Homo sapiens: one gene and its partners. The protein of the gene in region 4 interacts with the protein of the main gene of each other region in a biochemical or structural test. Each region holds a gene or a part of one and is shown on either strand. Other genes may lie near its edges. The genes, in order: SIGLEC6, SIGLEC7, TNR and TLR4.

Evidence for each region.
Region 1: the proteins of TLR4 (region 4) and SIGLEC6 form a complex in vitro, tested with the Homo sapiens proteins (one study listed by IntAct).
Region 2: the proteins of TLR4 (region 4) and SIGLEC7 form a complex in vitro, tested with the Homo sapiens proteins (one study listed by IntAct).
Region 3: the proteins of TLR4 (region 4) and TNR form a complex in vitro, tested with the Homo sapiens proteins (one study listed by IntAct).

What each region holds. Positions count from the first base shown.
Region 1 is NC_000019.10:51,516,626-51,523,690, reverse strand, and holds the end of SIGLEC6 (sialic acid-binding Ig-like lectin 6 isoform 1 precursor), read left to right. Parts: intron 1-3,435; coding exon 3,436-3,609; 3' UTR 3,610-5,872; downstream 5,873-7,065. UniProt on the Homo sapiens protein: Putative adhesion molecule that mediates sialic-acid dependent binding to cells. Binds to alpha-2,6-linked sialic acid. The sialic acid recognition site may be masked by cis interactions with sialic acids on the same cell surface.
Region 2 is NC_000019.10:51,145,965-51,154,353, forward strand, and holds the end of SIGLEC7 (sialic acid-binding Ig-like lectin 7 isoform 1 precursor), read left to right. Parts: coding exon 1-157; intron 158-789; coding exon 790-886; intron 887-1,256; coding exon 1,257-1,353; intron 1,354-6,958; exon of another isoform or gene 6,959-7,098; coding exon 7,099-7,281; 3' UTR 7,282-7,562; downstream 7,563-8,389. UniProt on the Homo sapiens protein: Putative adhesion molecule that mediates sialic-acid dependent binding to cells. Preferentially binds to alpha-2,3- and alpha-2,6-linked sialic acid.
Region 3 is NC_000001.11:175,387,881-175,396,269, reverse strand, and holds part of TNR (tenascin-R isoform 1 precursor), read left to right. Parts: intron 1-2,374; coding exon 2,375-2,490; intron 2,491-4,831; coding exon 4,832-4,982; intron 4,983-8,389. UniProt on the Homo sapiens protein: Neural extracellular matrix (ECM) protein involved in interactions with different cells and matrix components.
Region 4 is NC_000009.12:117,709,948-117,718,336, forward strand, and holds part of TLR4 (toll-like receptor 4 isoform A precursor), read left to right. Parts: intron 1-2,441; coding exon 2,442-4,701; 3' UTR 4,702-8,389.

The DNA of each region.
Region 1 (7,065 bases), on a different chromosome or scaffold from region 4:
TGAGGTGTTTACTGGGCCTCTCCTTATCAGACCTGGAACATCAAATTTGGTTTACCCAGTTCCATCAGACTGCTGAGAGGAGAGTTACTACTTTTATCCTCTAGCAGGGTTGTCCAATCATCTGGCTTCCCTAGGGCACATTTCTTTTCCTTGTTGGTTTTCAGCAATAGGATTATGACATGCCTAGGTGTGGTTTTCTTTGTTTTTATCTTTCTTGGTATTTGCAGATATTGTTGGATATATGACTTGGTATTGTGAAAACATTTTAATCATTGTTTTTTCCATAATTCTTTAACTCCCTTCCCCTTTCTGGGATCCCAGTTGCACCTGTGTCAGAATGCTTGATATTGTCCCACAGGCCAATGAAGCTGTGCTTATTTATTTTTCGTTTTTGTGTTTTCTTTGTGCCTCAGTTTGGAAAGTTTTTATTGCTACGTTTTTTAGTTCATTGCTATTTTCTTCTGCCGTACCTAATCTGCTATTAGCTTTTCTTTTTAGATATTGCCATTTTTCATCTCTAGAAATTCAATTCAGTTTATTTTTTTTTTCCTGAGACAGGATCTCACTCTGTCGCCCAGGCTGGAGTGCAGTGGCATGAACATGGCTCACTGCAGTTTCGACCTCCTAGGCTCAAGTGATCCTCCTGCCTCAGCCTTTCAAATAGCTATGACTACAGGCATGCACCACTGCGCCTGGCTAATTTTTTAAACAAATTTTTGTAAAGACAGGGTCTCACCATGTTGCCCAGGCTGGTCTCAAACTCATGGGCTCAAGCAGTACTCCTGCCTCGGCTTCCCAAATTGCTGGACTTACAGGTGTGAGCCACCACACCCAGCCCAGTTCTTTATAGTTTTCATTTCCTTATTATGTTCTGTTTTCCTTTAAGTTTTTGTTATTGTTGAGAGAGGGTTTCACTCTTTTGCCCAGGGTGGAGTGCAATGGCATGTTCTCAGTTCACTGCAACCTCCACTTCCTGGGCTCAAGCAATTCTCCAGCCTCAGACTCCCGAGTAGTCGGGACTACAGGCGTGAGCCACCATATCTGGCTAATTTTTTTGTGGGTTAGGGATTAGAGATGGGATTTCACCATGTTGCCCAGGCTGGTCTCGAACTCCTGAGCTCAAATCAATCTGCCCACCTCAGCCTCCCAAAGTTCTGGGATTACAGGCATGAACAACCATACCTGGCCTAAGTCTTTGAATATGTGTATTTATAGCCGTTTTTAATCTTCTTTTCTGCTAATTCCATCATTTGGTGATATGTTTCTATTTACTGATATACTTTTCATTGCTTACATTCCACAGCTTCTTCGCATAGGTAGTGATTTTGGTGGCATACTGGACATCGTGTTACATTGTTGATTATCCGGATATTTTAATCTTCCTTTAAAAATTGTTGAGCTTTGTTCTCGAATGCAGTTAATTTATTAGTGGATTGTCTTGACCATTCAAAGATTTTTACAAAAGCTTTGGCAGGGTGAGTTTATATTTGCCTTCATTCCAGCTTTCTCATAGCTGTTCCTTCTCCAGCAGCACGTACCCAGGCTTTCAGCCTTTCACTCTGTGCATACAGCTTAGTATTCAGCCAAAGATTCAAGGGGACCTCTATGCATATTTTTTGGAGTTCTTTCTCTGTGTAGTTTTTTCTCTCTGTACTCTGCTCTACAAATTCCACCCACATCATTCCCACTTGAACTGCAGTTGCTGCCTCCACAGTTTCATAAGACTCTTGTGTTCTGCTTGAATTTATCCTCCACGTACTGCAGTTTGGAAATTGTCATTTGATCATGAGACTCACCTCATTGGTTTCCTTTCTTTCAGATGTCACAGTCCTGTCTGCCTGTTTTCCTTGTGAAACACATATTTTACATACTATGTATAGTTTTCTAATTATGCTGGGAGGGTGCCAGTTACTCTACCATAGCCTGAGTGAGAACTGACCAAGAATAATTCAAGTCATGATTCCTGTTGTTCAGACCCTCAGGAAAAATTGGTGCTGGGGGAGGTAATACCTAGACTGTCTTCCAAAAGTCTGGGATGTGTGGATGGGGGAAGGTGGCCAGGGGAAGCCCAGGGAGAGGCAATTTCCACCTGTTATTTTCTTCATTCAGTAGGGCTTTTGTGCTGATCTGTCATTTCTCCTGCAGAAATTCACACCTTTAGTCTCGGACTTTGCCACTGATTTGTGTAGCAAGAATGCAGGCAGGAATATATTATCCCAATGATGGAGGAAAGACATGAGTGGAACATAAATCTCATTTCTGTAGCCATTCACGCACTGTCACCAATGCCTCCCTGAACACACACACACACATATACACACACACACACTCCAGTATAAAATATTTTGTTTCCCCAGAGATTTCCCACTTTTTCTTATTTGCTCATTCCATAATTTCTTGTATTGCCTCTTGGTTTATTTGGAGATATAACACACTTAGTGTGTGTTAAATCCCCACTTTGTTGGGAATCATTACATAATTTCTTTACCATGCTTTACTTTCAAGTTTTCAGGGGCATTAGAAAGAGAAGGTACAGGAGAGGGCGTCCGGTGGCCTGTACTGCAGGACCCGGTCTCTGTTCTGTCCTCCAGTACCTGTCTAGGAATCAGATATGCCACTCCTGCCCCTGCTTTATATTTCAAAATATCTGCTATCATGAATTAAAAAAGTGATTTTGTTTCCTGTTTTTAACTAACTGCATCTCATAGAAAACCACACTGCCTACTATCTGGGACTGTGTCTGCTTTCTTCATGGCTTAACATCTAGCACATGTCACATGACCTACACAACAATAAGCTGGTTCTGAGTCCTTCTCAGTGGTGCATTTATATAGATGTGTGTCTATAGGCAACATGTGGAGCCTCTCTTAGCCTTAGTGTTCCCGTTTGTAAGATGAATGTAATCATGGAATCCACTGCAAAGCATTTTTTGAGAATAGAATATGACTGATTAATGTAAACACTCACTAAGGGCTTGCCAATCTTAATTATTAAATATTTTAAAATAAATGAATGCGGTGGATGTGGTGGCTCATGCTTGTAATCCCAGCACTTTAGGAAGCCAAGGTGGGTGGATTCCTTGAGCCCAGGGTTCAAGACCAGCCTGGGCAACATAGTAGAACTCCATCTCTACAAAAATTAGCCAGGTGGGGTGCATGCCTGTAGTCCCAGCTACACAGGAGGCTGAAGCAGAAGGTTCATTCGAACCCAGGTGTTCAAGGCTGCCTGAGCCGTGATCATGCCGCTGCACTCCAGCCTGGACAACAGAGCGAGACCCCATCTCAAAAATAAAATAAAATAAAATGAAATAAAATAAAATAATAAATGAATGGATAAATAATAAAGTTCCATCAGTTCTACTCCCTTTCTGATCCTTGGCTGCTTTCTTTGAGAACCTATTGTCCAGCCCTGAATCTTTTCTTTTCTTCCATTAAGGGTCATCAGCACCAGTTCCAGACAGGCATAGTTTCAGACCACCCTGCTGAGGCTGGCCCCATCTCAGAAGATGAGCAGGAGCTCCACTACGCTGTCCTACACTTCCACAAGGTGCAACCTCAGGAACCAAAGGTCACCGACACTGAGTACTCAGAAATCAAGATACACAAGTGAGGAATTGTCCAAAGCCATAACCTTGATTGGAGAGAACATGGTACCTCTCAGTGTATTGGTTACTAGGGCTGCCACAGCAATGTACCACAAACCGAGTGACATAAACACAGAACTTTATTTTCGTATAGTTTCAGATGTTAGAGGTCTGAGAACAAGGTGTTATCAGGGTTGGTCCCTTCTAAGGCCTCTCTTGTTGGCTTGTAGATGGCTGTCTCCTCCTTGTGTCTTCACATGGTCTTTCCTCTGAGTGTGTTTGTGTCCTAATCTTCTCTTCTTATAAAGACACTAGTCATATTGGATTAGGGCCTCCCCATGACCTAATTTAAATAAATTAACTATTTAAAGACCCTCCAAATACAGTAACCTTCTGAGATATTGAGATTTAGGACTTCCAACATATGAATTTTAGAAGGGAACAATTTAGCCCATAACACTGTGTCCAATTCTTTTAAAATTAATGTTTTTGTTGTAAATGGACTATATAAATACCTTCGTATATATGGCAGACCACAGGACTTCTGTCCAAGAGAACTGAGTTCAACTCCATCTATGCCAGCTATTGAGCAAGTCGCTTTATGTCCCTGCTCTGTAAGGCAGGGAAATAATTTCCATCTAACCAGATTATTGTGAAAGGTCAAAGAAAGCATACAGCTAACATACAGCTTTGTTAGCTGTAAAACAGCTAACAAAGGCCCTGACACAAAGGTTTTCATAAAGTCTGTATATTTTTGTAAATGAATGCCTTGTATCTGGCTTTGGCTAGCTTTTTTTTTTTTTTTTTTTTTCTGAGATGGAGTCTTGCTGTATCTCCCAGGCTGGAGTGCAGTGGTGCGATCTTGGCTCAGTGCAAGCTTCGCCCCCTGGGTTCACACCATTCTCCTGCCTCAGCCTCCCAAGTAGCTGGGACTACAGGCACCCACCACCACACCCGGCTAATTTTTTGTATTTTTAGTAGAGACGGGGTTTCACCGTGTTAGCCAGGATGGTCTTGATCTCCTGACCTCGTGATCTGCCCTCCTCGGCCTCCCAAAGTGCTGAGATTACAGGCATGAGCCACCGCACCCGGCTTTGATTAGCTGTTTTAACAGACGGTTTCTGCTGGCAATTTCTTCTAAGGCTGAAAAGGAGTAGGCCCAGAGGCCACAGCACCAGGTGTCTGTGTCACCCCCTGTTCAGAACTCTTCACGACTCCCCAAAATAAGGTTTCCATCCATCATCTTTCTGCTCAAGGCTCTCTACATGATCTTGTCCATCCAGATTTCCCCAGATCAATTCCTCACCAGTCACCAATACCCCATGTCCATTTCCACAGCTTCCTCTTACAAATCCCAGTCTCCACTATTCCAGTGAAATTGAAGAAAGCATTTAATGAAGACCAACTATTAAGGAAAATTCTTAAGAGTAGCCATGAAAAATAAAAAGATAGATTACACTTAAAAGACCACAGTTAGCAGTGGCTCACGCCTGTAATCCCAGCACTTTGGGAGGCTGAGGTGGGTGGATCACTGGAGGTCAGGAGTTCGAGACTGGTCTGGCCAACATGGTGAAACCCCATCTCTACTAAAATACAAAAATTAGCTCGGTGTGGTGGCACTTGCCTGTAATCCCAGGTACTTCTGCAGGTTGAAGCAGGAGAATTGCTTGAACCTGGGAGGTGGAGGTTGAAGTGAGCTGAGATTGCATCACTGCACTCCAGCCTGGGCAACAGAGCGAGACTCCAACTCAGAAAAAGCAAAACAAAACAAACAAACAAGCAAAAAACCACAATTAGACTGACAGCTGACTTTTTTAGGAGCAATATTGGAAGGCTAAATGCAATAGAAAGATGTCTTTGATGGCTTAAGAGAAATAAATGTTGTTTTAGAAAGCCTACTCAATGAAAACACATTTTAAGACTGAAAGTGAAATATAGATATTTTAAGGAAAACCAAAATATGTGAGTGTTAATAAAGAAAAGATTTCTCAAATAAATTCTAAAACATATAATTCAGGTATTAGGAAAGTGATCCCAGATTAGATTTTTGAGATCCAAAAAAAATGAAAACCTAGGAAAGTAGCAAATATGTGAGCAAAATGAAACAAATACTTGTTGTAAAAATGATGGTTTGTAGAGGGGTCAAACATCAAATGTAATATTGAAATACCAATATTATATAGCCCAGAAACTATAATAACATAAAGTTCAGAAGAGTGTAAATAGAATTTATATTACATAAAGTCTTTATATTTTTCCAGAGAAAATTAAATGTTATGATGAATGTTACATTTGGATAATTTATTATTGTAATCTCGAGGAAATTTACTTAAAGATTCGAAGCCAAGTTTACCACCTGTGAACTAGAGGAAGTATAAAAGGTGATAGAAACATTATTCAGTCAAACCAGAGAAGACAAGAAATAAGAGATTAAAGAAAAAAAGGATGGATAGAACATGTAGAATACAAGTATAAGATTCTGTATTTAGACTCAAATACAGTCTAAGAATCACATTAAGCACAAGTGAATTAAATGCTACAGTTAAAATACCAGCATAGTAAGACTGGGGGAAAGTGTAGCTATACGTTGTTTATAAGAGATCTACATAAAAGATAAATATAGGGGAGGTTGTGTGTAGAAGGATGAAAAAAGACATACCATGAAAACCGTAACCAAAAGAAACTGATGTAGTCAGTCAAGTTTCCACTGGAAAAAACAAGTCTGTAGGATGTATGTATTGAAAGATTCAACTATTCACAATAGCAAAGACATGGAATCAACCTAAATGCCCATCAATGATAGAGTGGGTAAAGAAAATATGGTACATATACTCAATGAACTACTATGCAGCCATAAAAAAGAATGAGATCATGTCCTTTGCAGGGACATGAATGGAGCTGGAGGCCATTATCCTTAGCAAACTGACACAGGAACAGAAAACCACATACCACATGTTGACACTTCTAAGAGGGAGCTAAATGATGAGAACACATGGACACATAGAGGGGAACAACACACACTAGGGCATTTTGGAGGGTAGGAGGGTGGGAGGAGGGAGAATATCAGGAAAAAATAACTAATGGGTACTAGGCTTAATACCTGGGTGACGAAACAATCTGTACAACAAACCCTCGTGACACAAATTTACCTATGTAACAAACCTATACTTGTACCCCTGAACTTAAAATAAAAGTTTAAAAAAAGGAACTTCAAAAAAAAGAAAGAAAGACTCATTGCAAGAAAATGGCGTATGCTTTTGTGGGAGCTGGCTAGGCAAGTCCGAGATCTATAGGGAGGGTCATCTGGAAGTCCAAGCTAGGACTTCGTCATGAGCTCAAGCTGCAATCCACAGGGAGAATTTCTTCTTTCTCAGAGCAGCCTCAGTTCTGCACTGAAGGTCTTCCACAGATTGAATCAGGCTTACCCAGATTATGAAGCATAATCTTCCTTAAACTGATTATAAATCTTAATCATGTGTACA
Region 2 (8,389 bases), on a different chromosome or scaffold from region 4:
AGGAGTCTGACCCTGTACCCCTCACAGCCCTCAAACCCTCTGGTACTGGAGCTGCAAGTGCACCTGGGGGATGAAGGGGAATTCACCTGTCGAGCTCAGAACTCTCTGGGTTCCCAGCACGTTTCCCTGAACCTCTCCCTGCAACAGGAGTACACAGGTGGGTAAGGGAGGGGCTGGAGGAGGAGAACACACCTGCCCCACCCTCATGGGCCACCCACTGCCCCTGAGCTTCAAGGGGGAGCTCAGCTCTGGTCTGTGCTCAGCTGTGAGGCCTGGAACTTCCCTGCAACCCAGGGCACTGCTGTCCTCTTCCTGCCAGGAAAGGTGTGTAAGGCAGGAAGAGGGGAGGAGTGGGTCTTGGAGGGGAGGAGCTGGGGCCTGGACAGGTGTGTTTGGGGAGACACGTGCCTTGCTTTCCAGTGCCTGGACTAGGGTGACACAAGCAAGGCACTCACTTCTGGGCACACGACTAAAAAACAAAAAATAAAACAACTCAGCAAGCAAGTGAAATAATATTGGATGTGATTATCTTTATTAAAAACTAAAAATTATTGCAAAATAATTTGACAGTGAATACAAATCAAAATTTCAAATACAGGCAGGCTGTGCTTACCACTCTCATGCCTCAGTGACCTCAGGAGTTGTCCCTTCCTCCTCCCTCCCATTCTTGCCCTTTGTTTCTGGGAAGGGGGATTAGGGTACCCAAGTTGGGGGCCTTATAGGAAGTGGGAGGAGAAGAGACCCAGTTCTTGGAGTTGGATCACCAAAACAATTCCAATCCATCCTCAGGCAAAATGAGGCCTGTATCAGGAGTGTTGCTGGGGGCGGTCGGGGGAGCTGGAGCCACAGCCCTGGTCTTCCTCTCCTTCTGTGTCATCTTCATTGTGTGAGCACTGACCCTAGGGAGGGAGGGAGAGTCCTGGGGGAGGGCGGACTGGGAGCAGGATCCCTGAAGCCAGAGCTGGAAGGGACTGCATGGGTCAAGAGCTTGGGGCAAGAATGAGCTCACGGGTGCGTGGCAAGAATTTCAAGAGCGCCCTTGTCTGTGGGGCTCCACATCTGTGGTGAACCTTGGGCCCCACCACCCAGGAGGCAGGAGCCTCTGTTTTCAACACTGGGGTCTCTGGGACTGGACCACCCTCCTCCCACCTCAGTTACCCCTCCAGCGCCCCAACAGGAAATACAGGGCAGGGGTTGGTCTGCCCACTGCACCCCGATCTGACCACACTGAAAGGCTCTCTGGTCTCTTCACTCAGAGTGAGGTCCTGCAGGAAGAAATCGGCAAGGCCAGCAGCGGACGTGGGAGACATAGGCATGAAGGATGCAAACACCATCAGGGGCTCAGCCTCTCAGGTGAGTGATATGGGCGTCTCCACACCCAGCATCCAGCTGGGACATCTCCCACAGGATGGCCTCCAGGATTTCTCTGCTTATCATGGCCAAAATTATCTCCTCATCTCCTCCTCCTTCCCACCATCCAGCTTCTCCTGCAGGATTCCCCATCTTGCTGACTGCATGACAGTCCCTCCTACCTACTTTCTCTCGGGCCAGGCATGGAGGAGGAGTTATCTCCTCTCTGTCCTCCCTTTCTTCTCTATAGCTCCACATTCACCAAATCTTGTCCATTTTTCCTCCCTAAGAATGGCTAGCATTGCTCCCACCCCCACCAATCCTAAACTCTCTCAATGCTGAGGCCTGAGGATCTCTGTCTTGGACTTCCTCACCTCCCTGCCTCTTGTGTCCCCTGCCCTGATGGGAGGAATCATTCAGAAGCCATCACTGATCAGTTTCTTTGCATCTGGACAGCTGTTCCCACCCCCAACACTGTCTAGAGCAGAAGCCAGAAAATACTATCTGGAAAGGCCAGATAGGAAATATTTTTGGCTTTCTGGCCTACACAGTCTCATTGCAGCTCCTCAACTCTACTGATGTAGCAGGAAATCAGCCGTAGACCATGTGTAAATGATTAGCTGGCTGTGTGCCAGTAAAACTTTATTTATAAAAACAAGCTGTGGGTAGAATTTGTCCCAAGGGCTCTAGTTTGACAAGCCCTAACCTAGAGAAAAAGCCCAAACTTCATAACTGCAGCCCTGCACATTCTCGTCTCTTAAACATCTACCTCTCTAGCAGGGCTGGAATTAGTGTGAGATGAGTGAGGTCCTGGCCTAGCATGCAAAATTTAAGAAGGTGCCAAAAATCTCAGTAATTGTGATAGTTTTAAAAAAAACTCTTATTTTAGGTTTGGGGGTACATGTGCAGGTTTGTTACATACATAAACTCTGGTCAGAGGGGTTTGTGGTACAGATTATTTTGTCACCCAGGTCCTAAGCCTAGTACCCCACAGTTATTTTTTTCTGTTCCTCTCTCTCCTCCCACCCTCCACCTTCAAGTGGGCCCCAGTGTCTGTTGTTCTCTTCTTTGTGTTCATGAGTTCTCATCATTTAGCTCTCACTGATAAGTGAGAACATGCAGTATTTGGTTTTCTGTTCCTGTGTTCGTTTGCTAAGGATAATGGCCTCCAGCTCCATCCATGTTCCCACAAAAGACATAATCTCATTCTTTTTTATGGCTGCACAGTATTCCATGGTGTATTTGTACCATATTTTCTTTATCCATTCTGTCATGGATGGGCATTTAGGTTAATTTCATATATTTGCTATTGTGAATAGTACTACAATGAACATTTGCTTGTATGTGTCTTTATGGTAGAATGATTTTTATTACTCTGAGTATAAAACCAGTAATGTGATTGCTATGTCAAATGATAGTTCTGCTTTTAGCTCTTCAGGAAATTACCATACTGCTTTCCACAGTGGTTGAACTAATTTACACTCCTGCCGACAGTATAAGTGTTCCCTTTTCTCTGCAGCCTTGCCAGCCTCTGTGATTTTTTTTACTTTTTAAAAGTAGCCATTCTGACTGGTGTGAGATGATATTTCATTGTGGTTCTGATTTGCGTTTCTCTAGTGATCAGCGATAATGAGCTTTTTCTCATATGTCTGTTGGCCAAAAATGTCTGTTCATGTCCTTTGCTCACTTTTTAATGGGGTTGTTTTTCTCTTGTAAATTTGTTTAAGTTCCTTATAGATGCTGGATATTAGACCTTTGCCTAATGCATAGTTTGCAAGTATTTTCTCCCATTCCGGTTGTTTACTCTGTTGATGGTTTATTTTGCTGTGCAGGAGCTCTTAAGTTTAATTAGATCCCATTTGTCAATTTTTGCTTTTGTTGTGATTGCTTTGGCATCTTTGTCAGGAAATCTTTGCCTGTTTATCCAGAACGATATTGCCTACATTGTCTTCCAGAGTTTTTATAGTTTTGAGTTTTACATTTAAGTTTTTAACCCATCTCGAGTTGATTTTTATATGTGGTATAAGGAAGCAGTCCCACTCAATCTTCTGCATGTGGCTAGACAGTTATCCCAGCACCATTTATTGAATCAGGAGTCCTTTCCCCATTGCTTTTTTTTGTCAGCTTTGTTGAAGATCAAATTGTTGTAGGTGTGTGGCTTTATTTCTGGGCTCTCTATTCCGTTCCATTGGTCTATGTGTCTGTTTTTGTACCACTACCATGCTGTTTTGGTTACTGTAGACTTGTAATATAGTTTAAATTTGGGTAACGTGATGCCTCCAGGTTTTCTTTTTGCTTAGGATTGCCTTGGCTATTTGGGCACTTTTTTGGTTTCATATGAATTTTAAAATTGTTTTTTCTAGTTCTGTGAAGAATCTCATTGGTAGTTTGATAGAAATAGCATTGAATGTATAAATTTCTTTGGGCAGTATGGCCATTTTAATGATTTTGATTCTTTTTATCCATGAGCATAGTATGTTTTTCCATTTGTGTCACCTTTGATTTATTTGAGCAGTGTTTTGTAATTCTCATTGTAGAGTTCTTTCACCTCCCTGGTTAGCTGTATTTCTAAAAATTTTATTCTTTTTGTGGCAATTGTGAATGGGATTGTGTTCCTAATGTGACTCTTGGCTTGGTAGTTCCTGATGTATAGAAATACTAGTGATTTTTCTATATTGATTTTGTATCCTGAAACTTTGCTGAAGTTATTTATCATTTAAGAAGCTTTTGGGCTGGGACTACGAGGTTTTCTAGATATAGAATCATGCATCTGCAAAGAGGGATAGTTTAAATTCCTCTCTTCCTATTTGGATGCTCTTTATTTCTTTCTCTTGCCTGATTGCTCTGGCCAGAATTTCCAATACTACGTTAAACAGGAGTGGTGAGAGAGGGCATCCTTGTCTTGTGCTGGCTTTCAAGGGGAATGCTTTCAGCTTTTCCATATTCAATATGATGTTGGCTCTGCGTTCACCATAGATAGCTCTTATTATTTTGAGATATGTTCCTTTAATACCTAGTTTACTGAGAGTTTTTAACACGAAGCGATGCTGAATTTTATCAAAAGCCTTTTCTGCATCTATTGAGATAATCATGTGTTTTTGTCTTTAGTTCTGTTTGTGTGGTGAATCACATTTATTGATTTGTGTATGTTGAACCAACATGAAGCCGACTTGATCATATTGGATTAACCTTCTGATGTGCTGATGGATTCAGTTTGCAAGTATTTTGTTGAGGATTTTTGCATCAATGTTCATCAAGGATATTGGCCCGAAGTTTTCTTCTTTTGTTGTGTCTTCGCCAGATTTTGGTATCAGGATGATACTGGCCTCATAGAATGAGTTAGGGAAGAGTCAGTCTTCCTCCGTATTTGGGAATAGTTTCAGTAGGAACAGAAGGAGGCTCAGATCTGACATTTATTGTGTGATTGAAGAGCCTTCCAGGCAGAGGGAGGAGCAAAGCAAGGCCCAGGCACAGGAAGAGGAAAGGAGAGGAGCCATGGGACATCTGTGTGATTAGACAGAGGGAGGCAGGACTGAGAGCAGGAAATGACTTTGGAGGAGTTGAGCCTATGTGAATTGTGTCTGACTGCACAGGCTACTGTGAGCATTTGGAGAGTTTTGAGCAGAAGGACATGATCAGACGAGATTGGGTCCGTTCAGGGTGGTATAGCTGTAGACCAGAAGAACATGATCAACTTTCATTTTCATGGGATTCCTCTGGCCACTGTGTGCAGAAGAGACCGTGTGTGTGGCAGGGGAAGGAGAGAGCATAGGAGGTAGACAGGAGGCTGGTGAACATCCCAGGCAGAAGGTGGTGTTGGCTGGAACCAAGATAGCAGCAGTGGTAGACATGACTGTCTCCCAGATGAATTCTGCAGTGGAACCTACTGGGATTTGTTAATGAATTGGAATTAGAATGTGAGCCACAGAAAGGGAGCAAGAATTACTTCCAGATTTTTGCCCTGAGCAGTGGGAAGAATGGAGGTGCCAATCATTGAGGCTGAGAAGATTGCAGAAGAAATGGATTTGGGAAAGAAAAGGAGGAGTTCAGATTGAATAGGTTGAGTTTTGTGTGTCTTTGGACAAGAACGCGGGGGTTTGAATTATACCACTGGATCAAAGACTATAGTCAGGAGAAAGGAGTGGGCTGGGGGTACAGATTTGGGAGTCATTAGCCTATTGATGGCATGAAGCCAACACAGTGGATAAGATCACAAGGCAAAGGTAAAGAAGAAAAGAACCCGGGGCTGCTCTGATATTTAAGGTCAGGGAGACCTGAAGCAATTGGCAAAGAGGTTGCCAAGAAGGTGAGGTGGACCCAGAAAAGCATGATGTCCTATAGTTGAGTCAAGAAGGCCTTCTGTGTAGGGAAGGTGAGCAGCTGGGTCCTCTGCTGCTGAAAAGTCCAGGAAGGAGAAGACTGCAAGGTGGACATTTAGACTCAGCCACTTAAGTGGTAGTCACAGTGACCTTGATAGTAGCAGTGCTTAGACTTGGTATGTGTGTGAATATTAATTTGAGTAATCAAGAGAGAATCTGGCAAGCAAAATCACTGACAGTTCCATGGAGCATCTTCTGCACAGGGGAGCAGCAGGGAAGGGCTGCGATGAAGGAGGACCCTCCCAGGCAGCCTCTGTCACTCTCTGCTGTGTGAGTCTGTATTAGTTTCCTGTGGCTGCTGTGACAAATTACCATGCATTTCCTGGCTTCCAACAACACACATGGATTAAAGTTCTGAAGGTCACAACCCCAAAATGGGTGTCACTGGGCCAAAATCAAGGCATTGGCAGGCAGGGCTGGTTCCTTCTGGAGGCTCCAGGGGAGGATGCAATTTCTCACCCTTTCTGGCTTCTAGAGGCACCTGCATTCCTTGGCTCAAGTCCCTTCCTCTGTTTGCAAGGCAAGTAGCCTGGCATCTTCCAATCTCTCTAAGCCCTCCTCCTTTCACTTGTAAGGACTCCTGTCATTCCACTGGGCCCACCCAAATAATCCAGGATAACCTCCCCATGTCAATATCCTTAACCTAGCTCCATCTGTAAAGTCCCTTTAGCAATGTAACGTAACAGATTCACAGGTTTCAGGGGATTAGGGTATGGACATTTTGGGGAGCAGTTATACTTCTTATCAGAGGATATAATTTCTTTGACTGAGTTGTCCTCCCCATACCACCGAACTGTGAGCTTCCTAAGAGCAGGTGCCCCATCCAAATCAAGGCCCTGTAATTCTCTCTCACTTAGCCTCTTCCTGCCCATCTTATAATTCACACATAGATATTCGTTTGTTTGACAGTCATTTTTGCCAAATTCCCTCAATTAAAAAGTGAGTTTCAGGAGGTCAGGGCCAACACCTACTGTGTCCACCACAGTCCATCCAGCACCCGGATCAGGGCTTCACACACAGAGGGCCCCAGCAGGACTCCAGGCTTTGGGGTCAGAAGGAAGGGACTGGATTGGGTCCCGGCATAACAGGGAGTTTGGGTACGCTACTTTCTTCATGGAGTTGTTGCGGGAAGTTAATAAGATTAATAAACACCAAACAAGTTGCTCAATAAGTGTTAAATATTGCAGGAAAGTATAAATGAAGGAGATTTCTATAAAATGAACGTGGGATAGAGGCAGGAACTCATGAAGTTTAATTCTATACAGAGGAATATATCCGAACCAACCAACCGATCAAACAACTTGTGACTCTCCCTGCCTTATCCTATTTCCACTGCTCTGCTCTGACTCTCTTCTCTCTCTCCATTCAGGGTAACCTGACTGAGTCCTGGGCAGATGATAACCCCCGACACCATGGCCTGGCTGCCCACTCCTCAGGGGAGGAAAGAGAGATCCAGTATGCACCCCTCAGCTTTCATAAGGGGGAGCCTCAGGACCTATCAGGACAAGAAGCCACCAACAATGAGTACTCAGAGATCAAGATCCCCAAGTAAGAAAATGCAGAGGCTCGGGCTTGTTTGAGGGTTCACGACCCCTCCAGCAAAGGAGTCTGAGGCTGATTCCAGTAGAATTAGCAGCCCTCAATGCTGTGCAACAAGACATCAGAACTTATTCCTCTTGTCTAACTGAAAATGCATGCCTGATGACCAAACTCTCCCTTTCCCCATCCAATCGGTCCACACTCCCCGCCCTGGCCTCTGGTACCCACCATTCTCCTCTGTACTTCTCTAAGGATGACTACTTTAGATTCCGAATATAGTGAGATTGTAACGTGTTTGTCTCTCTGTGCCTGGCTTATTTCACTCAACATAACATCCTCTAAGTTCATCTGTGTTGTTTCCAATGACAGAGTAATGTACTGAATAATTCAAAATAGCTAAAAGAGAGGAGTTTAAATGTTGTCACCAAAAAAAAAAAAAAAAGATAAAAATTTGAGCTGATGGATGTGCTAATCATGCTGACTTGATCGTTCCATGGTGCATCGAGGTGCGGGAGCCTCACGGGGGCTGCGTTCAGGTCGCTCAGGTACTCAGGGCAGGACTGGAATTTAATCCCTGCCTGATTCTGAGGTCTCTTCTCTCACCCGGCACCCAGCACTGAGTGAAGCAACCACTGACTGGGCACCCCTTAGCCATAAGTTTGCAGCATCTCCGTTGACTCCATGGCCTCTGGTGAAGGAATCCGAGAACCTGGACACACAGGAGCTGAGAAAGGAGGCGCCTGAAATTACAGCCCAGCTCTGCGCATGGCCTGCCCCAGCCTGCATAGCTCTGATCAGCAGATAGAGCTTCCAATGGCCATGCTGCCCATGATTTCATCCCCAGGGCCCTGGTTGGGTCTGCAGACCTCCGCCAGGAGCCCCCATCTCCGGACCTTGGTGTGACTGGGCTGGGTCCCTCTCTTGCTGGTCCCCTCCAGAGGGACCCTGGACCCTTTCCAGCCTCACAGGCCCTATGGAGACCCCAGCCCTTCTCCATCACCTTCTCCTCACCTGCTTGCCCCTCTGGTCTTGTCCTCGGGTCTGAGGACATGCAGCCTGATTTGCCCTATGGGGAGAAATCAGGGAAGAAGTCACATCTCAGGTCCATAAGAAACACGGGA
Region 3 (8,389 bases), on a different chromosome or scaffold from region 4:
AGCTAGACTCTGACTAGAAGTCAAGGAAAGTGTAAGACATCTACAGACTTTGAATCAGTTAGGGATCCAAAACAAGGAGATATGAACTAGGACCTCTAAGAAGCAAGTGCTAAATGGTGTGTTCTCGACCATAAGTGTATAGCAAAGTGAGAAAAAAATCTTATTTAAAACCACAGCTGACAACATCCCCTTCTCCTGATAGAGAGGTGGCATAATTTCCTCCTGGTCTTTTGTTTAGTGAAATATCTTAATAGTTCATTTTAGTTATAAAAGTTGAAGCCCTAGAGCATAATTTAGAAGGATTCACAGGGAAGAAAGAGAGAGATGGAGACAGAAAGCAATCTAAACTGCTCTCCATAAGAAATGAACAGTTTTTTTTATACATAAAGGGAAACTTCTGTGGGTGTGTACCTATATTTTGTGTATGTTCAAGCATAGAAAAATATAAAAGATTACATAACAATTATTAACACTGACTACATCACAGAGTAGAATAAGAAGGAGATAGGAAATAATTATTATATTTTTCTTTATACCCCTCTGAATTCTTAAATTGATACAATAAGCCTGTTTTAGTTTAGAATTTCAAAAGCCAGGCAGAATAATTTAGGCAAGAGAAGTTCTCATCACCCCAAGTCTACTGCAAAACCTGCATGCACACAAATGCCTCTGTGCCTTATGTGGAAAGTCTTTGGAGAGATCATGAAAAAGGGGCTGTATCTGATTAAAATCTGGGAAGAGAGAAGAGAACATTCAAAGGAGATGAGGTATGAGTGATACAGAGATTTTTAGCAATACCAAGAAAGTGGAACAAGAAGTAACCATGAAAACATAAGCCCTCTAGAATTCAGAAAGCCCCCGGGCCAGTAAATAGGACTTACCACCAGATAAGGGGTAAGAGATCTGAGCCCATTTTGTGTAGGTAGATGGTATTCAGGTAACAAATGCCACGAAAGTTCAGAAAAGGAAAAGGTCAAGGTAGAAAGATTTAGCCTTGAAATCTTCATGGAAGCTCCAGGACTGAATTGACCTTTGAAGGATGCAAGGATAGAGACAGGCAGAGGGGAAGGAATTTAAGAAGTCATCTTGTCCCCTTGCTTTTCAGGTGACAGAAATTCTGCTATAATTTTGGACTCCGCTATGAGAAGAGTGCTGACTCTGTTAATATGCCTATAATTATCTCTGTTTATATTTGACCTTTTTTTAAAAAAAAAATCCTCTGGTGCCTGAGAACTGGTTTTAAATATCTGCAATGATTGTGCAGAGAGGCAGGTCACCATCTGCCGCTTTTCCCACCTTGCTCCGGGATGAGTCACCACCCTAAGTGCCTGGCCTAACTCCCAAGCGTCTCCTCTCTGATCCACATGCATGCACAGTGATGAGGTTTCCATCTCCTGTGGCATTTATTATGCCAATTCAGGGCATTCCCTCAGGCAAGCTCCCAGGTGACAAGGACAAAATCATGTAAACCACCTGACACAACTTCAAGTGGGCTTGCAGTCAGCCCTGCCTTCCAACCAAGAAGCATGAGAACTCTTCCAAACAGGAAGGATGAGAAAATCTGTCCTTTTTCCAATGGGAATAGCCCATGAGAGGCAAAGCTAAAATGGGAGCAGGCTTCCTGGAGAACTGAGAAAAGTCATGCTGTCATATTTCAGGGCTGATAATTGAAACTCCATTAGGACAAGCACACTTCCATCTCACAAAACCTGTGCATGTGTATGTGACTGTGTGGTTGGGGGAGAAGGGGTGGTGGGAGGAAAAGAGGGAGATACATGAAATGAAAAATTCAGACCATCCTAGACTTAGTGATTTGAGCTAAACAAAATACTCTCAATGTGCATCAGATGATCAAGGAAATCACTCTAGTATTAATTCTGAAACTGGTTTGCTCCACAACTTTAGCCAGCTTTCTCTGTGCCTCTCTTTTCCTGTGTGCAAAATGAGAACACTGATAGAAGCCATCATAGTACCTCCCGGGAGTCCTGTAAAGCTTCTAAAGATACTGCTCAAGTCCTCTGAAAAAGGCACTGTACTATATATGATATGCCAAGATCTACCACATTAGTAAGAAAAGAAAAATGATGTCTGCATTTTAATAGTAACCTATTAATGCAATAAAAAGCATTAAAAATTGTTTATATAGATTGTGTTTAAGTTAACTCATGTATTCCATCAACATCGAGCACTAGAGCCACATGGGGTGGGTTGATTCTGCACCTGGGACTCACTGTGTCTGGAGCAAGATTGGGATTGTCCACCAGACACCACCACGCCCATGGCGTGGAGGGAGTTCACCAAGACAAAGCACCAGGCAATGCTGTCTGTCCCAAGGGTTAGCCATGACATTGTCACCTACATTGCTGTGTTCCAGATCTCTCCACTCCTCAAGGGCTACAATTTAAGACGATCACAGAGACCACCGTGGAGGTGCAGTGGGAGCCCTTCTCATTTTCCTTCGATGGGTGGGAAATCAGCTTCATTCCAAAGGTAACACTCACCTGTTACACTGCCAAACAGACTTATTTGGAATATTTGTACCTTTAGCTTGGAATCAGGGGCAGCAAGGAAAGTGCTACCCAATATCTCTCTCCATGCCATTAAAGACACAAAATGGCATGTTGTGGGTGTCTGGGATATAGAACATTTCTGTGACAAATATGTGGTAACGACCTGCTGACAAGAGTAGCCCTGAGCATGGCACCCTGGCCTTGCAGAACAGAGGATGTGGGAAGCAGCCACCAGCTCCAGCTCTCTGCTGAGATAACTCTGGGGTCTGATGAGCCATAGTTTTGGTGAGCATGAAAACCAGACCCTGAAAAAATTGAGGCTTCTCTTTAGGACATAAGAAAAGCCAGGCTGAATCCATCACATAATCAGCCAAAAGCTTCATTCTGTGCAGACAGATGCACCACAGAAAAGTCAGCTTGCATGGCATCAATCCCTAAAGGTTACAGACATAAAACAAAACACCTTGGCTCTCCTGGATTATTCATAATACATTTGTATCCTATTAATTTAGCAACTTTTTTATTAGTCTATGACTTTTAAAGTATCCTAAGATTCCTTTCTACTCTCTAAAGCAGTATTTTATTTATTTTCTTAATTCTAAAACTAACTTTTCCGAATTGCCACAGGTGTATGCCTGGCTCTAAATTTCCAGAATTTGTTGACCCTACCAATGTCCTCCCTAACTGTACCACTCATGAGGATATAAAGTTCAATTATACTCCTTCCCTCTGTCTTTATTCTTCAACATCAAAGAACATTTTTTAGCCATTCATCAGACTTAATGACAAATGACACATTTTTGGCTAACAAGACCATGATTTCACCATTCTTTTACTTCAAAATTCTTAGAGCTGTGAACTGTTGGAGTTACAAAAGACCTTCAAGTTCACAGGTACGACCCCTCATTTTACATCTAGTTTAGTTTAATTTATAGACACTACGATTCAGAAAACTTGAAGGACATCATACAGCTAGTTGGTGACAGGCTTAAAACGAGTACCTGGGTCCCCACCACCTATCCCGGGGCTCTGTTCACTAAATCTGTATGCCCCATTTTCTTATTTACAGTCATATTATAGTCACATCACAGCAAGGTAAATAAATCTAAACAGACATCTATACAAATGTGTCCTATTTGAGTTAAAATGATAAATAAAATGTGGCAATTGAGTTACATAACAATTGAAACGATCATGTCAATTGGAATGGAACATTGCTACCAATGTTTTTCAGGAAGAAAAATTACGCCAGGTTCTCCTGTTACCTATACCCAATATGTAAAACTCTAATTAAAAGAGAGGCTGACCAGGGAATGCCAAGGTCAAATGCATGGCCACATGGTTTAATAACTGTTGTGATCTGTAGGTTGAGGCCACTGGGGAGCATTCATCACACTGATTTATAAGAGTATGACTGTAAATTACATATAAGGCACCCTGGGTACCATAAATAGAGGCCAAAGAATAGGGGAGAATGGCAGTGCCCTCCAAAAGAGGCCCTCTTGTCTCCTCCATTTCTAAGGACACTCATAGAAAGTATATGGAGGGAAAGAGAGAGAGGGAACGATAAGATAGAAAGATAGATAATAAATCCTAGATTCAATTTCGTCAAGTTACTCTTTCTCATTCCCTCTCCCTCTTGTCTCCTTCTTCTCTTCTTTGTATTATCTTTTTCCAAGCTTCCTTTTTCCTTTCTTTGTACTTCATATGTGGTTGTGTCACTGAGTCCTAATTCATCTGGGTGAAGGGGAAACAAGACATCGACAGATTCACACCGAATGTAGCACCATGAGAAACTCCAGATATAGCAAAATATTAGCTCTGGCTCATAAACAATTATCTCATAGCAATGTCTTAGTTTGAAATGTGTTGTGTGTGTATATAAAGATGTTTACACACAAACACACATGACTATCCTCTCCTAAATAGCCGGGGGCATGTTCATTACGATAAATGCCAAAAACCTCTGATGAATGTTAACCGCAACCATCAAACATTTGATCTTTGGCAAGAGCCAATCTGCACCACCTCATCACTAATTTTTATTGGCAAACTCAGCAAACTCAGGAGTGGCCAAAGAAATGTTCTTAAAAATTGATCCTCCATTTGCCAAATCCTCATAGGGTGGTGTCATTCTTATGGAGTCTATGGGGAGTTATTTCTGGCCCCAGATACTCAGCTGTCAGCATGGAGGAAAGAGACATCGCCCCCATTTTAAATTCACAATCCACAATTAGTATTCCACACCTTTATCTTTCTCTCATCAGATTTCTCTCCCAGTGACTTTTCTCTTTTGCTCTCTGCTTCTCCCCACTGTCCAGAACAATGAAGGGGGAGTGATTGCTCAGGTCCCCAGCGATGTTACGTCCTTTAACCAGACAGGACTAAAGCCTGGGGAGGAATACATTGTCAATGTGGTGGCTCTGAAAGAACAGGCCCGCAGCCCCCCTACCTCGGCCAGCGTCTCCACAGGTGAGTGCCTCCAACCCTTCTCCCTAGAGCTGCCTACTAGGTCACTTGGAAAAGAACCACAGAATTGCCCAAGGAGTGGAGAGACAACAGAGGTGCTAGAATTTCTCCTAGAGCTGGGACAATTCTGGTACCTGGCAATGGAGCTACTCTACCAGATGCTTAGCTCATCATCTTCCCTATTACTCATCCTTACAAATACTGTCATCTGGGAGAGTGTTTCATGGAGACAATTCTTTTTTAATATTTCCATTGTATTTATGCTGATCTTACTCATGAAGAACACTCATTTGTCAGCCTCTGGTGTCAATGATCTTTGGAAGCAGCAAGAGCTGACTCATTCTTACCTATGATGATATTTGGAGAAAGTCATCTGAACCTTCCCAAACTTCAATTTATTTTACAAGATAAGCAAGAATAATTTATGATAAACAAGAATACCTTCTTCATTAAGTTAATATGAGGATGGGATTAGATAAAGCACACAAAGCAATCAGCTCTGTGCTGATGAGAGTGAGTGCTCAATACTTGGTATACGCACATATACTCAGAACATACTCAGAAGTGAAAGTGGTAGGAAACAAGTCATTCAAAAATAAGTAGGTATGGGTTGGGTCACTGTTCAAGGTGATGGCTTAAGTCTATTATTATTTCATCCCACAGATCACCTCATTCAAGATTATTATATTTCCAGGATTGATTCATTAATTGTCATATTTTGCCTTATTGTATCCTCAGCTAACAAAGAGTGTTCAACTTCAATGCTGTAAATTAGCTATTGTGATGTATAAATGTGTGTGTGTCCTCACCAAGAATGTCTCGAAAGTTATAAATAGCATCTGGCATAAGTTTTGGTTCTCATTTTATTGTTGATGGAGCTGAAACTCAGAGGCTAAGCAACTTTCTCTGTCAGTAACAGAAATTGAGATAGGTGACTATTGGTACAGCTTTATGTGTTTTTCATAAACAGAAATTGATGTACCAGAAAGCCAGTTTTAAGTCCAGGACAAAAGGCTGAGTTGACCAGAGATGAGAACCACAACACAATGTAATGAGACCACATTTATAGATTAGTGATTCATGCTCTGCTACTGAATCCAAACCAAACAGCATCAGGTGCCAAGGCTTAAGCTCAGTTTAGAAAACGTTGGTTCAGAACTATTGTGGCAGTAGCTTGTGTTCCATTAGTGCACCAAGGTTCTATGGCAGTGCCTTGAGGCTAGAATCCAGTGGAAAGCCAGACCTCTAATTACTCCCTCTTTCATGCCTCCAACCAGGACAGCTCCACTTTGATCTGTTTTATATTTTGTACATCCATTTAAGATTTTTGTCCTTTAAAAAATAAGTTTACCACCCAAAAAGCTTTCAAACCATGGTTCTGCTCTAAATAGTATGTTTTAGAAGAAACCCCATAACCATAAAAGCTACAGTGCTCTGTAGGAATCCCTCCAGAAGGCCGGTGGCTGAGGTTTTCCACAGCTCCAAGGTTATGCTGTAACCTGAAGAGTTGACATTCGATAACTTGGGGGCAGAAAGGTGTGATGCCCTTGCTCACCCATCATATAAGCATCACAACAACACTGCTATCACAAAAGACAGGTTAACAAGAGAAAGCGTAACAAATTTATTTAATCAAAGTTTCACATGACAAAGGAGCCTTCAGAAATGAAGACCCAAAGACCTGGGGGAAATTGTCTGTTTTTACGCTTAGGTTTGAGGAATAATGGACAGCCATGTAGAAACGTAATTGGACAAATGGCTATGATCTAATGGTAATAGTCTAAGGGGGAGACCCAGCAAGGCCTGTCTGCCCAGATTCTTCTTGGCCTCTCTGTGAAGCATTTCTTCTCCACCTCCTCTGTGGGACAAGACCTCACTGGAATGAGGGTCCTCAAGGGAGAAGGGAGGAGGGAAAAAGTTACCTTTCTAGGTTTTATGGCTTGCTTTGAGGAAAAGGAGTTCTAGTTTCTATTACCTGCCCTGAGGAAGAGGAATTCTGATTTCTGTGAATCACTTCAAAGGGAGAAGAAGGGTCAGGAGATGGGAGGACTGCAGATGGTCAGAAAGACCTTGCTTGCTTCCGGGGCTGTTTCTGAGGCTCTTTCATTCCTCTTTAATTCAAAGTACTCAGCACACCAAGGTGCCAAATTTTGGAGTGTCTGTGATGAGCCCAACAATAGCAGGTGCAGCTTCTCCTCTTCTGATATGAAATGTTACAAGGTGCCCAAGTTATTCCTGTGATTTGATATTAAGAAAGTATTAGTAAAAGACAAAAGGCTAAAAGGAGAAGATGGTTCATAAGAGGATAGAAAACATTGCAGTTGAAGAATATTTTTCTCCTAGAATATTGACAGAACATGGAGAAGGTAGTCCAACTTTGTCTTATAGTCAAACCACATTCTTATAACATTTGCAGTATTTTTTGGTTTGGCAGTTCCTTAAGTTTAAAATTAAAATTCCAGATCTAGAAATTTGTGGTAAAGCTAGGCAGAATTATTTTCATTTAAGAAAAAATGTCCTTAATATTTTGGCATCATCTACAGAGTCATGAAGAAATGGAAAGACATTTATTCCAGTTTACTTTTTGAGCAGGGATTGTGTTTGTTTAGAAATTAGGACCAAAGCTGAAAGCAAGTTGATACCTCCTTGATTGGAATGGAACATTGCTACCAAGTGGCCAACAAAGGGCAGAATCCAAGAGTGGCTACAAAATAGACGGTTGGCTCCCAATCCTGTGTGCTGTTTTTAGGAAACGATTGTTTAATTATTTCCTTCTGCTAAGGTCTGACCTACACCAACCCCCTACTGCGAAGCTCTGTGTCCTCATCAGGCACTCAGGCTGCCTTCTTCTAGGCAGGCCATTTTGTGAATGCAAATTACAAGACCTCCCACAGCTAAAACCCTCTGCGCTACATAATCACATTTTAATATGTTCAATCCATTATGATTCGGGTTTTCTGGATTTAAAGAGTTGAAGGACAAAAGCTTTTTGTGGTCAGTTGCATTTCCCTGACACTTTTTTTTTTTTCCAAAAAGCTCCAGTTTATTGAAATGCTTCCCCTTCTTTCTCATGGATAAAGAAGATTTTCCATTCATTTCATTTACTCGACACACATTTACTGAGTGTCTACTATGCTTCAGATATCATGCTTACACAGCAACTAGGAGGCCACTTCCCCCATTTCATAATTAATTTAAATTAAATGTGAAAGGCCTAAGTTATCTAAAACCACCAAGTGCAGCATGCTGAAAAGAAACTGGATATATTCTGTTAAATCACATTACTACCTCAAATATGAAAACCAGGACTTCATTTTAAGTCCAAACCAGGTGGCACCCAAGTGGTCTGGTGATTTTCATTTTAGCTGGTGCTGGACCAAAAGCCCTAAGCAGCTTAAGAGAGGACAGGA
Region 4 (8,389 bases):
AAATGATGAAACTTATTCTGCTGGATTAAATGTGATAATAAATATTAATATGCTGTATATATTTAAATTTTTATAAAATATATTTTATAAGCATAAAGTATTCTTACAGAATTTCATTAGGTTTTTAAAATAATTTCAACTTTTATTTTTGATTCAGGGATTTACATGGTTATATTGCGTAATGCTGAGGTGTAGGGTACAATCGATACCATCACTCAGGTAGTGAGCATAGTACCCAATAGTTAGTTTTTCAACCCTTGCTGCTTTCTCTCTATCCCCTCTCTAGTAATCCCCAGGGTCTATTTTTGTCATCTTTATGTCCATGTGTACTCCATGTTTGGATCCTACTTATAAAGTGAGAACTCATGGTATTTGGCTTTCTGTTCCTTTGTTAATTTGCTTAGGATAATGGCTACTAGCTGCATCTATGCCATTATGTTCTAAATTTCAGTTTCCTGCATGAAAATTTTGTCAAGTACTCTATTAAGGTAGACCACCTCTCCCTTTTTTTTTTTTTCAAACAAGAAGTAGTTTTTCACCAAACAATGTCTCTTATGTAATTCATCTTCAATCCACTGGATACCCAATAAACTTGCCCCAGAAACCTTAAATCTGTGCTTACAGAGAGGCCAGCTTCCCTTCTTGTTAACCCATAGGAGATTCTGAATTAGGGCAAGCACAAAAGATAGCACAATAGACATCCTTTGCCTTTTCGTACAGTGTTCACATACAGTAACTCAACTAGTCTTGTAAGAATGCTTTGTGATAGACCAGGCAGCCTTCTTTCCCCTATAGAAATATATATATATTTCTTTTTATAGGTGAGGAAACTGAAGCTTGAATAATTTAAATGACTTATATACATTATCATTGCTTGTTAGCCACAGACCAGAGATTTAAGTTCACATCTCCAGAATCCAACTTAAATGTTTTCTTTGTCTTAATACTCTACTTCTCTAAAGTGATTATCACCAATGTAATGATATAGAGACACAGCAAGACCCTTTCCTTCTCACCTAATGTATAGAGCAATGCAGAGATAGAATGATGGGCTATAACAATCATATAATTGAAAGAAAGAACTTCAAAAATAATCAAGTTCAGCTGTTTGATTTATAAATGTGATAACTAAAACCTAGAGAGGAAAAGAGGTACTCAAGATCACACAGTAGGAGAGGACTGCAGAAACACCAAACCCAAGCTCTTTTGTCCACTCTTCCAGCGTTCTTTCTACTATACTGCCTATCCTTTATCTAGTTACCAATAAATAACAAAAGCTTGGACCACAATGCTTTTATTGTCTAGGAAACTCCTGAAGAAGCTAAATAAAATGGGTGGGGAATATTGTAAATGTAATTCAGGCTGGATTAAGAAAGAACTTATTTGTACATTGTAACTGACAAGCACCTGCAATGCTGAAAGGAATTTTTCATTGGCTTGCTGTTTGCTGGCTGCATCAAAGCCCTGTCTCTAGGACATGTCTCTGAACATTGTGTGTAGCATGGCTTTCATTTCTTTTAGGATAAAATTCAAAACCCTTTATCTGGTTGGTAAACCTCTGCCTAATTGGGAACCTTCTTTCTCCACAACTCCATATTGTACACTCCAATTTCATCTCTGTTCTCCAACCATGGAAGCTATTTGTCATGATTCCTCCTTGTGTCATTTTTTTTCTGTCAACCTTGGGGCTTTTGTGTTTGCTGTTCACTTCACCTCCTTTTATTGTTAACTTCTACTCATCTTTCAATTTTCAACTTAAGTGTTCTCAGAGAAACCTACTTTGATTTTCTTGGTCCACAACGGTTCTCTGGATGTGAACTCTTATAGCACATAATTTTCACTTTTTTCCACAAAACTCGCTCCTATCACCTGTTACAAGCATTTACCTCTGATAACAAGAACTTTCAAATATCTAGCTGTCATGTAAGCACTTTTCATAAACATTAAGAGTATCTGTGACACTTATGTGTAATTTTTCGTATCTCTGAAATTGATATTTACCAGTCATTTATCTTGGCTACCAACTAACAACTATCCATATTATCTGTACCAATCAGATGTATAATCACAATTTTGTGTGACAGAAAATGGCTAAACTTGATCCAAGGCTATTACATGCTTTATCAACTGCACAATCTTTATATATGTCAATTATTGATCTTTAACTGATTTCCTTCTTATGGATTTTCTCCTCTGCTTATCATGTATGCCTAACATGACAAAAAAGAGCCTATCATTGCAGCCAGTATGATAATACTCAGTCTGTGGGGCTTCTTATTTGCTTATTCCATCATCATCTGTCCTGCTTGATGTCTTTGCCTATGCACAATCATATGACCCATCACATCTGTATGAAGAGCTGGATGACTAGGATTAATATTCTATTTTAGGTTCTTATTCAGCAGAAATATTAGATAATCAATGTCTTTTTATTCCTGTAGGTGTGAAATCCAGACAATTGAAGATGGGGCATATCAGAGCCTAAGCCACCTCTCTACCTTAATATTGACAGGAAACCCCATCCAGAGTTTAGCCCTGGGAGCCTTTTCTGGACTATCAAGTTTACAGAAGCTGGTGGCTGTGGAGACAAATCTAGCATCTCTAGAGAACTTCCCCATTGGACATCTCAAAACTTTGAAAGAACTTAATGTGGCTCACAATCTTATCCAATCTTTCAAATTACCTGAGTATTTTTCTAATCTGACCAATCTAGAGCACTTGGACCTTTCCAGCAACAAGATTCAAAGTATTTATTGCACAGACTTGCGGGTTCTACATCAAATGCCCCTACTCAATCTCTCTTTAGACCTGTCCCTGAACCCTATGAACTTTATCCAACCAGGTGCATTTAAAGAAATTAGGCTTCATAAGCTGACTTTAAGAAATAATTTTGATAGTTTAAATGTAATGAAAACTTGTATTCAAGGTCTGGCTGGTTTAGAAGTCCATCGTTTGGTTCTGGGAGAATTTAGAAATGAAGGAAACTTGGAAAAGTTTGACAAATCTGCTCTAGAGGGCCTGTGCAATTTGACCATTGAAGAATTCCGATTAGCATACTTAGACTACTACCTCGATGATATTATTGACTTATTTAATTGTTTGACAAATGTTTCTTCATTTTCCCTGGTGAGTGTGACTATTGAAAGGGTAAAAGACTTTTCTTATAATTTCGGATGGCAACATTTAGAATTAGTTAACTGTAAATTTGGACAGTTTCCCACATTGAAACTCAAATCTCTCAAAAGGCTTACTTTCACTTCCAACAAAGGTGGGAATGCTTTTTCAGAAGTTGATCTACCAAGCCTTGAGTTTCTAGATCTCAGTAGAAATGGCTTGAGTTTCAAAGGTTGCTGTTCTCAAAGTGATTTTGGGACAACCAGCCTAAAGTATTTAGATCTGAGCTTCAATGGTGTTATTACCATGAGTTCAAACTTCTTGGGCTTAGAACAACTAGAACATCTGGATTTCCAGCATTCCAATTTGAAACAAATGAGTGAGTTTTCAGTATTCCTATCACTCAGAAACCTCATTTACCTTGACATTTCTCATACTCACACCAGAGTTGCTTTCAATGGCATCTTCAATGGCTTGTCCAGTCTCGAAGTCTTGAAAATGGCTGGCAATTCTTTCCAGGAAAACTTCCTTCCAGATATCTTCACAGAGCTGAGAAACTTGACCTTCCTGGACCTCTCTCAGTGTCAACTGGAGCAGTTGTCTCCAACAGCATTTAACTCACTCTCCAGTCTTCAGGTACTAAATATGAGCCACAACAACTTCTTTTCATTGGATACGTTTCCTTATAAGTGTCTGAACTCCCTCCAGGTTCTTGATTACAGTCTCAATCACATAATGACTTCCAAAAAACAGGAACTACAGCATTTTCCAAGTAGTCTAGCTTTCTTAAATCTTACTCAGAATGACTTTGCTTGTACTTGTGAACACCAGAGTTTCCTGCAATGGATCAAGGACCAGAGGCAGCTCTTGGTGGAAGTTGAACGAATGGAATGTGCAACACCTTCAGATAAGCAGGGCATGCCTGTGCTGAGTTTGAATATCACCTGTCAGATGAATAAGACCATCATTGGTGTGTCGGTCCTCAGTGTGCTTGTAGTATCTGTTGTAGCAGTTCTGGTCTATAAGTTCTATTTTCACCTGATGCTTCTTGCTGGCTGCATAAAGTATGGTAGAGGTGAAAACATCTATGATGCCTTTGTTATCTACTCAAGCCAGGATGAGGACTGGGTAAGGAATGAGCTAGTAAAGAATTTAGAAGAAGGGGTGCCTCCATTTCAGCTCTGCCTTCACTACAGAGACTTTATTCCCGGTGTGGCCATTGCTGCCAACATCATCCATGAAGGTTTCCATAAAAGCCGAAAGGTGATTGTTGTGGTGTCCCAGCACTTCATCCAGAGCCGCTGGTGTATCTTTGAATATGAGATTGCTCAGACCTGGCAGTTTCTGAGCAGTCGTGCTGGTATCATCTTCATTGTCCTGCAGAAGGTGGAGAAGACCCTGCTCAGGCAGCAGGTGGAGCTGTACCGCCTTCTCAGCAGGAACACTTACCTGGAGTGGGAGGACAGTGTCCTGGGGCGGCACATCTTCTGGAGACGACTCAGAAAAGCCCTGCTGGATGGTAAATCATGGAATCCAGAAGGAACAGTGGGTACAGGATGCAATTGGCAGGAAGCAACATCTATCTGAAGAGGAAAAATAAAAACCTCCTGAGGCATTTCTTGCCCAGCTGGGTCCAACACTTGTTCAGTTAATAAGTATTAAATGCTGCCACATGTCAGGCCTTATGCTAAGGGTGAGTAATTCCATGGTGCACTAGATATGCAGGGCTGCTAATCTCAAGGAGCTTCCAGTGCAGAGGGAATAAATGCTAGACTAAAATACAGAGTCTTCCAGGTGGGCATTTCAACCAACTCAGTCAAGGAACCCATGACAAAGAAAGTCATTTCAACTCTTACCTCATCAAGTTGAATAAAGACAGAGAAAACAGAAAGAGACATTGTTCTTTTCCTGAGTCTTTTGAATGGAAATTGTATTATGTTATAGCCATCATAAAACCATTTTGGTAGTTTTGACTGAACTGGGTGTTCACTTTTTCCTTTTTGATTGAATACAATTTAAATTCTACTTGATGACTGCAGTCGTCAAGGGGCTCCTGATGCAAGATGCCCCTTCCATTTTAAGTCTGTCTCCTTACAGAGGTTAAAGTCTAGTGGCTAATTCCTAAGGAAACCTGATTAACACATGCTCACAACCATCCTGGTCATTCTCGAGCATGTTCTATTTTTTAACTAATCACCCCTGATATATTTTTATTTTTATATATCCAGTTTTCATTTTTTTACGTCTTGCCTATAAGCTAATATCATAAATAAGGTTGTTTAAGACGTGCTTCAAATATCCATATTAACCACTATTTTTCAAGGAAGTATGGAAAAGTACACTCTGTCACTTTGTCACTCGATGTCATTCCAAAGTTATTGCCTACTAAGTAATGACTGTCATGAAAGCAGCATTGAAATAATTTGTTTAAAGGGGGCACTCTTTTAAACGGGAAGAAAATTTCCGCTTCCTGGTCTTATCATGGACAATTTGGGCTAGAGGCAGGAAGGAAGTGGGATGACCTCAGGAGGTCACCTTTTCTTGATTCCAGAAACATATGGGCTGATAAACCCGGGGTGACCTCATGAAATGAGTTGCAGCAGAAGTTTATTTTTTTCAGAACAAGTGATGTTTGATGGACCTCTGAATCTCTTTAGGGAGACACAGATGGCTGGGATCCCTCCCCTGTACCCTTCTCACTGCCAGGAGAACTACGTGTGAAGGTATTCAAGGCAGGGAGTATACATTGCTGTTTCCTGTTGGGCAATGCTCCTTGACCACATTTTGGGAAGAGTGGATGTTATCATTGAGAAAACAATGTGTCTGGAATTAATGGGGTTCTTATAAAGAAGGTTCCCAGAAAAGAATGTTCATCCAGCCTCCTCAGAAACAGAACATTCAAGAAAAGGACAATCAGGATGTCATCAGGGAAATGAAAATAAAAACCACAATGAGATATCACCTTATACCAGGTAGAATGGCTACTATAAAAAAATGAAGTGTCATCAAGGATATAGAGAAATTGGAACCCTTCTTCACTGCTGGAGGGAATGGAAAATGGTGTAGCCGTTATGAAAAACAGTACGGAGGTTTCTCAAAAATTAAAAATAGAACTGCTATATGATCCAGCAATCTCACTTCTGTATATATACCCAAAATAATTGAAATCAGAATTTCAAGAAAATATTTACACTCCCATGTTCATTGTGGCACTCTTCACAATCACTGTTTCCAAAGTTATGGAAACAACCCAAATTTCCATTGAAAAATAAATGGACAAAGAAAATGTGCATATACGTACAATGGGATATTATTCAGCCTAAAAAAAGGGGGAATCCTGTTATTTATGACAACATGAATAAACCCGGAGGCCATTATGCTATGTAAAATGAGCAAGTAACAGAAAGACAAATACTGCCTGATTTCATTTATATGAGGTTCTAAAATAGTCAAACTCATAGAAGCAGAGAATAGAACAGTGGTTCCTAGGGAAAAGGAGGAAGGGAGAAATGAGGAAATAGGGAGTTGTCTAATTGGTATAAAATTATAGTATGCAAGATGAATTAGCTCTAAAGATCAGCTGTATAGCAGAGTTCGTATAATGAACAATACTGTATTATGCACTTAACATTTTGTTAAGAGGGTACCTCTCATGTTAAGTGTTCTTACCATATACATATACACAAGGAAGCTTTTGGAGGTGATGGATATATTTATTACCTTGATTGTGGTGATGGTTTGACAGGTATGTGACTATGTCTAAACTCATCAAATTGTATACATTAAATATATGCAGTTTTATAATATCAATTATGTCTGAATGAAGCTATAAAAAAGAAAAGACAACAAAATTCAGTTGTCAAAACTGGAAATATGACCACAGTCAGAAGTGTTTGTTACTGAGTGTTTCAGAGTGTGTTTGGTTTGAGCAGGTCTAGGGTGATTGAACATCCCTGGGTGTGTTTCCATGTCTCATGTACTAGTGAAAGTAGATGTGTGCATTTGTGCACATATCCCTATGTATCCCTATCAGGGCTGTGTGTATTTGAAAGTGTGTGTGTCCGCATGATCATATCTGTATAGAAGAGAGTGTGATTATATTTCTTGAAGAATACATCCATTTGAAATGGATGTCTATGGCTGTTTGAGATGAGTTCTCTACTCTTGTGCTTGTACAGTAGTCTCCCCTTATCCCTTATGCTTGGTGGATACGTTCTTAGACCCCAAGTGGATCTCTGAGACCGCAGATGGTACCAAACCTCATATATGCAATATTTTTTCCTATACATAAATACCTAAGATAAAGTTCATCTTCTGAATTAGGCACAGTAAGAGATTAACAATAACTAACAATAAAATTGAATAGTTATAATAATATATTGTAATAAAAGTTATGTGAATGTGATCTCTTTCTTTCTCTCTCTCAAAATATCTTACTGTACTGTACTCACCTATTTTCAGACCATAACTGACCATGAAACCTGGGAAAGTGAAACTGTGGATAAGTGAGGAACTAACATACATACATGATTGTTTATCTACAGATGTATGCCTCAGTTTCTTAGTATGCTTGAAAATGTATGATTTTGTGTATATCCGTGCTACATGTAAGTGTGGTTCTATTCATATTTGAATATGAATTCTGCATAAGTGTGTTTATTCAAGCAAATGTACAAGGCTCTGAGAAGGAAGATCAACATACAACTTGGAATATTTCAAGGCCGAAATATTCAAGGCTGACATTGGCCTCCTTCCTATCAGTTCCCTCTCCCAGATGGAAATTCTAGAAATGGCAGGTGAGGTGGACAAGCAGGGAAAGAAATTATATGCATAGAACAGAAGGAGAAGAAAGAGTAAAGTCAGGCCTCAGCCAGCCTCTTTTTAGCTCTTTAAATCCTCTGGATTTAAGAGGGATAAAGGGTGGAATAAGGATAAATTAATGCCAATTGTAATGCCTTAAATTTGTGTGATACCTTACAACTTGAAACATATTCACAAAACTATATATTTGAATATCTCATTAGCTGAGTAAGGTAGCAAATCATAATTAACTTTTTCCATTTTATTGATGGGAAAGCTGAAGTTCAATGAAGTAAATTTTTCAATAGCCCACAGAGTAGGAAAGTGACAAAACCTGAGCCTGGGCCTCCAGGTCACTCAAGGACACTTTCTTTCTTCCACACCCAATTGCTTCATGCTTAAAGTTGGCAAAACAGGAAGTGAAACTCCTGCAGTTTTCTGTGTGGTTGACACTAGCAAGGGTTTCTCAGTTGAA